2 linked regions of the Homo sapiens genome follow. Changing the gene in region 1 together with any one later gene gives a genetic interaction. Each region holds a gene or a part of one and is shown in the gene's direction. Other genes may lie near its edges.

Region 1 (5,881 bases):
ATCTGACTAGACTCTAGAATGGCATTAAGCAAGTCACTGAACCGCTCAGAGCCTCTGTTTCCTTATCACTAAAAGTTAGGACAATTCTTGCAATGAAATGAGATACTACTACCAAGTACTTCAGTGCTGTGCCCAGCACAGAACGAATACACTCAGTATGTTTTTCTTTTGTTTCTTCTGTCTCTCCAGCACCCAAAGCAGAAACAGTATGGGCAGAGAGACGCCTACTGAATCAGGTGTTTATCAGTATTATGAAATACAGTATATAAAACCCAGCATTTGGAGTCCAGAACAAATTCAAATTCTGGCTCAGTCACTAAGTAGCTATGTGGTCTTGGGCAACTGGCTTACATTTTGGTAATTCTCTCAATATGCAAAAATATTCTCTCGGCCAGGTGCGGTGGCTCACGCCTGTAATCCCAGCACTTTGGGAGGCAGAGGCGGGCGGATCACTTGAAGTCAGGAGTTTGAGACCAGCCTGGCCAACATGGCGAAACCCTGTCTCTACTAAAAATACAAAAATTAGCCAAGCATGGTCATGCATGCCTGTAGTCCCATCTATTTGGGAGGCTGAGGCAGGAGAATCACTTGAACCCAGGAGGTGGAGGTTGCAGTGAGCCGAGATCGAACCACTGCACTCCAGCTTGGGTGACAGAGCCAGACTCTGTCTCAAAAAAAAAAAAAAAAAAAAAAGAAAAGGAAAAAAAACTCCTGGCAGACATGAGAGCAAAATCGAGTACGAAATGGGCAGCTGGGACCTCATATCTACTGAATAATTGTCTGTTTGGAGGTTGAGACATGACTGGGGAGGCCTGGCCTGCCCCTGTGTTAGGTGATGGGGCTGGCCCACCCAGGGGTGTGGCAGCAGGGCTGGCCCCTGTGTGACTTGTGATAACCCCACCCTACCAAGGAGGAAGACTGGATAAAATGGGCCCCTGAGATGGCTGAAGGCAGCTAAAGGGGCCTAAGAGACTATGGGGAGAAGGGCAGCCAGTTCCTAGGCAGCCCTGCCCCACTGTTTCTGATAAGCAGGAGGCAGTTGTTCCCTCAGCCTCCTGAAAGCAATGAGGAGTTGAGGCCACGGGAATGCAGCTTTGGATTCCAGAAGCCAAGGACCTGTTACAAAGGTGGTTTTCTGGGAAGCAAATTAGAGGGATTAGACCTGGCTTCGACATCTGACTTGACTCCAACCTACCAAAGGATCTCCCAGTTCACCTGGGAGTTAACACACCAGGGTTCTAGTCCTTTTGCTCGCTGTGTGGCTTTGGGTAAGTCCTTGCCCCTCTCTGGACCTTGAGGTCCCATTCATACAAAAAGCAGTTGGACTCAGGCCTGCCAGCCCCCATTTTTGTGGCTCTTCCCCGCCCCTCCCCATCCTTTGGCTATGGGATAGTCTCCCAGGCACCTCCAAAAGGAAGTGTCTAAAACAGAGCTCTCCACCTCCTCTCCAAGCCCAGCTCCCCACTGCCCTCTTCCTGCCCTGTCCCTGTCTCCGCTGCCCTTTAGATCAGGCAGGCAGGCAGGCCTAGAGCATCCGCCCTGAGACACTGCCTGTTGGCTGCCTTAAGACGCCCCTTCCTTCTCTGCCCGCAGCCTCCCCAGCCTCTGCATTCCTCTGCTTCCTGTCTGCTCTGCTCAGCCTGCAGGATTGATCTTCCCAAAGCCAGGTGTCAACCAGGCCACTAACCCTACCCACTGCTCAGAAATCTTCCCACAGCCTCAGCCTGGCCCCCTCTTATCCATCCCCTCCATACACACTTGCCTCAGCTCCTCAAAACAGTCCACAGCCATCCTCCTTCCCCACCTTTGCCCCTTTCTTCCCTTCCTAAGGAAATATTGGCCCCCTTCTCTCCACCAGGCTGAACCCACTCATCCTGCAAAACCAAGTTCAACGCCCTGTCATTTTCTTTTTTTTTTTTTTTTTTGAGATGGAGTCTCACACTGTCGCCCAGGCTAGAGTGCAATGGGTGCACTCTCGGCTCACTGCAACCTCTGCCTCCTAGGTTCAATCGATTCTTCTGCCTCAGCCTCCAGAGGAACTCTGACTACAGGTGCACACCACCACACCCAGCTAATTTTTGTATTTTTATTTTTATTTCTATTTATTTATTTATTGTGAGATGGAGTTTCTCTCTTGTTGCCCATGCTGGAGTGCAATGGCACGATCTCGGCTCATTGCAACCTCCGCCTCCCAAGTTCAAAGGATTCTCCTATCTCAGCTTCTGAAGTAGCTGGGATTACAGGCATGTGCCACCACACCCGGCTAATTTTTTTTTATTTTTAGTAGAGATGGGGTTTCACCATGTTGGTCAGGCTGGTCTCAAACTCCTGACCTCAAGTGATCCACCCACCTCGGCCTCCCAAAGTGCTGGGATTACAGGCGTGAGCCACCGTGCCTGGCCTAATTTTTGTATTTTTAGTAGAGACGGAGTTTCACCACATTGGCCAGCCTGGTCTCAAACTCCAGACCTCAAGTGATCCACCCGCCTCAGCCTCCCAAAGTGCTGGGGTTACAGGTGTGAGCCACTACGCCTGGCGCCTGTCTTCTTCTAATATGCCTCTTCTGACCTCCTCACTCCCATTGGAGCCATGGCTCACTTCTGGTCAGGCTCCATGCACTCAATCAGCCCTGCCTGCCAGGACTGTAGTGCCCACTTGATGAGAAATCACCTGTGAAAATGCCAGGCATGGTCTGGCACACAGTAGGTGCTCAAGAAACAAATGTTAATGCCCCAGCTTCCTTCTGTCTTGTGTCCACTAATTTGGCATTTGGAGCATATTTTTGTACTTCACGTAATTAAATATTTACTGTGTGCCAAGGTCAGTGTGTGACAGAGCACTGTAGGGGAGGCAAAAATGAACCAACTCTGGACCTTGCCCTGCAGAAGCTCTGTCTACTGGCATGAGGTAAGACAGGTCCACAGATAACTTACATAAGAGAGACTGCAATCTGGACAAGACAGCCTCAGTGGGAGAGGGAAGGAGAACCCTGTAGATTTGGGTGCGGGGAGGCTGTGGGGAGAGCACAGCCTTTCAGGTAAAGGGACAAGGTTAGGAAAGCAAGAAGGTGTAGCTTGTGCTCGTGGAGCCCAGGAAACTCCTTGGGCTAGAAAAGATTTGGTGGCACTCTATACAGTGTATGTGTCTGTCTGTCTATCTAACATGAATGGTACTATTTTCTCCTATTGGTGTGCATTGTACCTAACAAAAAATCCATGTCCCAAGTACTTTTCTCTTTTCTTTCTTTCTTTTTTTTTTTGGAATGAAGTCTTGCTCTGTCGCCCAGGCTGGAGTGAAGTGGCGCTATCTCGGCTTACTGCAACCTCCTCCTCCTGGATTCAAGCAGTTCTCCTGCCTCAGCCTCCCCAGTAGCTGGGATTACAGGCACGCACCACCACGCCCAGCTAATTTTTTTTGTATTTTTAGTAGAGGTGGGGTTTAACTGTGTTGGCCAGGCTGGTCTCGAACTCCTGACCTCAAGTGATCTGCCCATCTCAGCCTCCCAAAGTGCTGAGATTATAGGTGTGAGCCGCCATGCCCGGCCAACAGTACTTTTCTCTAGAGGTAGAATTGCAGGGGATTTTTCTCTTTTTGCTTATCTGCACTTTTCTAAAAGTTCTGCCATGAACACGGGCATTTTTTGTGGAATAAACAAAGTTTAAATGTTGGCTAGATCAGTGCTTCTTTATGCATAAGGAAGGATTAGTTCTTTTTTTTCTATTTCCAATTTATTGATTCTTTGATAAAATGCAATGCAATAAAATTATTATTTTTTTTTAGAGACGTCTCCCTCTCTCACCCAGGCTGGAGTGCAGTGGTGCAATCATAGCTTACTGCAACCTTGAACTCCTGGGCTCAAGCGATCCTCTTGCTTTAGCCTCCTGAGTAGCTGGGACTACAGGTGTGGACCACCACACCTGGCTGATTTTTAAACTTTTTGTAGATACAGGGTCTCGCCATGTTGCCCAGGCTGGTCTCGAACTCTTGGGCTCAAGCCATCCTGCCACCTCAGCCTCCCAAAGTGCCGGGATTACAGGCGTGAGCCACCATGCCCAGCTAGAAAATTACTTTTTTGGCTAGGCACCGTGGCTCACGCCTGTAATCCCGGCACTTTGGGAGGCTGAGGCAGGCAGATTGCTTGAGCCCAGGAGTTCGAGACCATCCTGGGAAGCATGGCAAGACCTCCATCTCTACAAAAAATTCGAAAATTAGCTGGATGTTGTGGTGCACACCTGCAGTCCCAGCTACTTGGGAGGCTGAGTTGGGAGAAACAGTTGAGCCCGGGAGGTCAAGGCTGCAGTGAGTCGAGATTGCACCACTGCACTCCAGCCTGGGCGACAGAGACCCTGTGTGAAAAAAAAAAAAAGAAGAGAATTTTTTTTAAACAGTCATTGCTTGCTCAGATGTTTACTTTAAAAGATAATAATGAACAAGAAGCAGTCACATAAAATACAAGCCCAAATTTTATATCATTAGATTCTGATTGTCATGAAAGTTTCTAAAGACTTACTTTCATTTCTCAACTTACCTTGTTGACCAGCAGGGATTGGTGAACCATGCTGTGAGTAGCATTGGGCTAGAGAGAGGGGAGGCAGGAATCTAGAAGAGCTGTTTTCCAGATGTGACCATCTCCTGAGGACAGGGACCATGTCTCATGTGCCACCCATCACCCCCCACAGACAGAGCCTGCAGCCAATGCCCCAGGAGCCCTCGGTTCCAACCAACTGATGCCCCTGTGCCCACTGGCCCACGCCATGCAGCCCCAGTCCGTTCTGCACAGCGGCTACTTCCACCCACTACTTCGGGCCTGGCAGACAGCCACCACCACCCTCAATGCCTCCAACCTCATCTACCCCATCTTTGTCACGTGAGTCTCCAAGAATGGGCCAGGCCTCTGCTCTGCTGGTTGGGGTTGGGGTTGGGGAGGGAGTGTTGACTGGAGCGGGCATCAGTATGGCTGGGGGTGGCAAAGTGAGCTGTCAGCTTGAAATTCAAGGCACTGGAAGCAGGCTACTTGGATTAAGGACAGGAATCTTAGGAACAAAACAAACTTTGAAAGAACTCATTCATCCCATTTGGAAAATTAGAAGAATAACCCTTGCCTGCCATCCTGAGCTCTTGCAGTAAGACAGAAGCTGAGAAGGTGCTCTGTACATTGTAAAGTGCTATGTACCTGTAAGAGATGGCAGTCATTGAGGCTGGGCACGGTGGCTCACGCCTGTAATCCCAGCACTTTGGGAGGCTGAGGCAGGCGGATCACGAGGTCAGGAGATCGAGACCATCCTGGCTAATATGGTGAAACCCTGTCTCTACTAAAAACACAAAGAAATTAGCCAGGCGTGGTGGCGGGTGCCTGTAGTCCCAGCTACTTGGGAGGCTGAGGCAGGAGAATGGCGTGAACCCGGGAGGCGGAGCTTGCAGTGAGCCGAGATTGCACCACTTCACTCCAGCCTGGGCGACGGAGCCAGACTCCATCTCAAAAAAAAAAAAAAAAAAAAGAGATGGCAATCGTGATTGTTAATAATAATGCAGACATTTACTGAGTACTTACTATCTACCAGGTACTATGCTAAGCACCTACACACATTATCTCATTCAATTCTGAGAGCATTTGTATGAAGAAGGAGTAGCTATCCTCTAGAACATCAGCTCCATGAGGGCAGGGATGTTTGTCTATTTTGTTCACTGTTGTATCATCAGGGCCTAGAACAGTACTTGGCACATAATAAGTACTCAATAAATATTTGTTGAATGAATGAATTAACCACGCATGATATAGATGAAGGCCTAAGGCTCAAAGAGATGATAGAACTTGGCCACGGTCACCCAGGCAGTAAGTGGCTGGGATAGAAAGCAAGGACCTGCCAAATTCAGAGTCCAA
Region 2 (4,690 bases), on another chromosome or scaffold:
TCCTTGTTAAGTTTGGCTGTGTTTTGTTTTTTTCAGTTTTGCCCACCTTAGCCAAAAAAACAAAAACACCCAAAGCCAACATGGCCTCAAATGTATTATTTATGGTTTGTGGGAAGAGGAAGGAGAACTCATCTGGGATGGCACAATCTGTTTGTAGTTCCCCAGAAAGAAAGCATGGGGTATTGCTACTTAAAACAAGCCAGCAAAAGCAATTCTGAGGTGAGCACCCCCCAACTCCCTGAAAGAAATGCACACACACACAAAAACAAGTATGAGTACCAGGTCCTCAGTATACATTTCTGCAAGTATAATCTGATTATGCTTAAAGAGCAGCAATTTTTTAAGTCAAAAGTTTGATTATGATTAGCATTACTTTGGATTTTCAGCTTGAATCTGAGTGGAGTGGAGTGATGTTCTGAGAAATAAATGAGTGGAGTGATATTCTGAGAAATAAATATGTCAAGTAAGATGAGTTACCTACACTGCAAAGATGGAATGCATAGAAAACTCTCCAACAAGGCCCTCTTCCCAGAGAATTTCAGGAAGCATGAGATGTGATAAGGTTACAGAAGTGGGAAACTGGGTTTGCACCTGAGAAATAATTGGAAACAGTGGTAGGTGAGGGTGATTGTAGTAGGTTTGCTGGTTTGGCCCAGTTTTTGCCCTTTCCTGGCCCTGAAGTATATTTAACTGCCGTCCATGTCATTGAAGACTGGAGACCTTGGGCTCAGTAATTATGTCTTTTAATGTGGGTCTGGTATGCAGCTACAGCCTTGCTGGATTTAGCAGAGACAAGTGGAGAAAAGACCTCTGGATTTTTCCTTCCGCTCTCTGCAAACAGACCAGGCAGCAGTTTCATCATGAATTCAGGAAACAGATGGCTAATGTTTTGAGAATTAAATATGGCAAGGAAAATTAGATTAAGCATATCACAGCCTGGATGCCTATTGCTAGAGCAGCTATTAAAGACAAACTTCTGCCCCATCTGCTGGGACAGCAGCCCATATCAGGCTGTGGTACCCCCACCCGGGGCCCCTAGGATTAGTGTCATTCTGTGGTCAGCTGAGTAAGAGCACTGGGTACTTGGCTGCTAGCTGAGTATGTGTGTTTTCTAGGACCTTGCTCCTTCCATTTGGTGGTGAACCCATTGATAGCATCTTTGTTTTATTTTCTCTCTCCTCCTCCACTCACTCCCTAGCCCTGATTGATTTCTGTTTCCATAGCAAGTCCGGGTTTAATTCTCACCTTTTCAAAATTTGTACTTACAACAGAGGAGAGCATAGAATATTAGAACCCACTAGGATGGAAAGGGCATGATTTGAAATCAGACCTGAGTTTAAATTCCCCCTCTGCCACTTACTGATTGTGTGACCTTGTCTCTTTTATCATAGTTGCATGTTTTCTTGAAGCCCCAGCCCCCATCTCCCAGAGACTACAGCTATACTGATAGAGGACATTCCCTTCTGCTCTGGGTTTTTGTCTTCAGCCTCATCCCCTCCATATGCCAACAGTGCTGTGCACATAGTCGTTAATTGGTTAATAAGGGTTAGCCATTCACACTAATAAAGAATTAGCACATTCACCATTTGAATGAAGAGGGCTAATAAATACATTTGGCAAATATTTATAGAGTCCTGTTATGTGCCAGGCATTGTTAGGTAATGGATGTGCAAATCTGGGCATGGGGCCTGTGGTGGTATCCTGGGTGGGAATGCTTCTTTGAGCAGGTGCCATTTAAGCTGAAATCTGGAGGAGTTGGGAAGGCAAAGATGGAAGTTGCAACACAAAGTCCTCCAGACTTTGGAGTCTCACATGCAGTCTTCATTGGTTAGGTCTACTGACCTCTGCATTCATCACTATGCCAGATTTTCCTCTAGCACTTTAATTACCTGGCTGCTACTGCTCTTTTAATTGGTCCTGATTTCTTATGTCTTCCTAATAGAAAGCACCAAGTTTGTTAATTTATTTCTCCTGCCCTGTACTTCATAGCAAGCTTTTCTAATTTCCTTTCCCCAGCCATAATTTCTGTTGGTGCCCTATCTATAGCCCCTTGAAGCCCCCCATTCCCTTACATGCCAAAGCTTTTGCCTACGTGTAGATGAGATTCCATGCCTGAGGGCTTTCTCTGGGCAGGAATACTGGGGAGTCCCCAAATAGTGACCAACAGCAATTGATGGATTAATACCCCAGCACTCGTGCCCTTGGTTGAGACAGCTCTGGGGTAGTTTCTAGATGGTTTACTGGAGTCCCCAGAAGATTTGAACCCCAATTGCCCATAGGGATAACCTGCCTATTAGCCTACTCCAGGTTGGCTTTCTTCCCTTCCACCTCTGTCTTCTCCACTCTTTCTAGTGCTTCCTGGCATCACTTCCCAAATAAACTACTTGAAGTCAGAGCTTCAGAATCTGCTTCTGGGGGACCCAAACTTAAATAAAGGGCAGATACGGGGTTTTGGTAAGTCATACCATGCAGACCTTGTCCAGTGTCTGCCCATGGGTGAAAATTCAGAGCAGCACTGAAAAGGTCATTGCATGAAGAAAATACCCAGACTTAACTGGGAAAGGAGAGGAATATAGAAAAGAAAGTTTTACTCCCTGCTGCATTATTTAATCTTTTCTTGTACCTCATTTACTCTTCACTGAACAATTTTGCAAGATAAATCTGTCAATTTCCTTTCCTGCAGGTAAAGAAACTGAGGCCAGAAAGATTAAGTAACTTGCCCAAGTTCACAGACTTGGGGCAACACAGCCAGGATTCTGATAGAAACTGTGCTGCTTTCTCAGTCCAGTAGTCCTCAAATGTGTTGAGGAGGCCCAGCGTATGGTGTCAGTATGATTTTTACAGATTATAGTAAAATCTCAACATATTAGATTCAAAATAGCTAAGTATGTTATTGAAGTATAGTTAAGCTTACTCTTCCATAGAGGCCACTTCCTCCAGGAAGGCTTCCTTAACCTCTGCACCATTCCCATGTGCTGCACAGCACCCTGAATCCTGCTGTAGCCCATCAGGATAGTTTATTGAAATTTCCTGTTTAATTGTTTGTCTGTATCTCTCAAACTCAGAGTAGAATAAGGGTCAGGATTGTACCTTACTTATTGTTGTGGCCCAAAACCTAGAACAGACCTCAGTGTATATAGTACATGGTTAATAAATACGTGAGTGGATGACTATACTTATAGCTAAATATAGTTATGCCCAATCAATTACTAGATTCTGATCTAGATATGTAAGAGGCAGCAGAGGTCTGAGAGAGTTGGATTAATGGGAGAAAAACTTGAGAAAAGCCTGTCATTCAACTTTGTTTTCAATTTGGGGAGCAGGGCAAGAGCCTGGTTTGAGAACCTTTGTCCCCTGCCCATGTTGACTTTGGAGGAACTTTGTGGCAGTGATGGAACAGCTGCCACGTCGAGGAGCCTCCTCACAACCTCCAGCTGCCTCCCCAGATCAGCAGGGGTGATCTGCCTTCAGCTTTCTACCCCTAGCTTTCAGGGCCTCAGTCAGTCCTTTAATTTTGTCCCCTGAAGGGCGTGAGGCTAGGGGAACAGGCATTCATTGAACAACTGTGTATCTCCTACTCATTCTTCAAGAGAGGCCACTTCCTCCAGAAAGGCTTCCCTAACCCCTGCGCCATTCCCATAAGCTGCACAGCACCCCGAATCCTACTGTAGCCCATCAGGATAGGTTATTGAAGTTTCCTGTTTGTCTATATCTCTCAAACTCTGAGCAGAATAAGGGTCAGGATTGTGCCTTATTTATCATTGTGTCCTTAAAACCTAGAATAGACCTCAGTGTATAGTACATATTTTATAAATATGGGAGTGGATGAATGTATCAATTTTATGCTAGTTCCTGAAAATACAAAAATTGTTAAAAAAAAAAAAAAAAGCGTTTTTGTTTCTCAAGAGCTCCTGGGGGTCTAGAGAGATGAGTAAGTAAATAATGAAATTATGGTACATAAGTGGCCTGTCCTTGTTGATGTCACGGGAGGCCTTCTGTGGGAACTGGGGCTTCCATTTGATTTTAAATGAATAGTAGTTGGAGGCAAGCACAGGATGTGCAAAAGCATTGAGATACGGCACAGAATGACTCATTCTAAGAATTACAGGTAGCTCCAAATGGCTGGAACACATTTCTAGATAACAAACCTAGGAAAACTAGTTGAGACCTGGCTGAAAGCGTTTAACTTTGTACTAAGCATTGTGGACTTTAGCCTAAATACCTGGGGTGTACCACTGAAGGATTCTAACTGGGGGAAAGACATGCTGGTTTAGAAAGACTGCCCAGGGCAGCAGGTGTTTGTCACACTCCTCGGTGTTTTTCTCCCTTGTGTCCTCAAACCCACTTATACAGGGCCTGGTACAAAGGACATGCTCAGTAAAGACTGGCACCTTTAAATGGGAGTAGGAGGAGAGAATATCACCAGAATTGGTGTAGAAGATCCATCAGAGGTGGAAAGCCTAGGAAGGCAATCATTGAACTCATCTGACTGTTTTTTAGGATTCCTTCATTGTGCATTTATTTCCTTCTTGGCAATTGTTACATTATCCTGAGCTTGTGGGATTATTCTATGTATTCATATGTAAGAGTTTCATACTTGTTGAATAGTTATTTAGAGATTGCTTCTATGAAAGAAAACTGCGCTTCCTGCATCCACCTTTCTGTTCTAAACACAGCAGCCAGAGTGATC

What was found.
Region 2: changes in ALAD (region 1) and SKP2 together harm fitness less than expected from each alone (positive genetic interaction), as found in Homo sapiens cells (one large-scale study listed by BioGRID).

What each region holds. Positions count from the first base shown.
Region 1 is NC_000009.12:113,392,433-113,398,313, reverse strand, and holds part of ALAD (delta-aminolevulinic acid dehydratase), read left to right. Parts: exon of another isoform or gene 1-236; intron 237-1,039; exon of another isoform or gene 1,040-1,268; intron 1,269-1,858; exon of another isoform or gene 1,859-2,856; coding exon of another isoform or gene 2,857-2,907; intron 2,908-4,676; exon of another isoform or gene 4,677-4,679; coding exon of another isoform or gene 4,680-4,754; coding exon 4,755-4,867; intron 4,868-5,881.
Region 2 is NC_000005.10:36,157,421-36,162,110, forward strand, and holds part of SKP2 (S-phase kinase-associated protein 2), read left to right. Parts: intron 1-4,690. UniProt on the Homo sapiens protein: Substrate recognition component of a SCF (SKP1-CUL1-F-box protein) E3 ubiquitin-protein ligase complex which mediates the ubiquitination and subsequent proteasomal degradation of target proteins involved in cell cycle progression, signal transduction and transcription.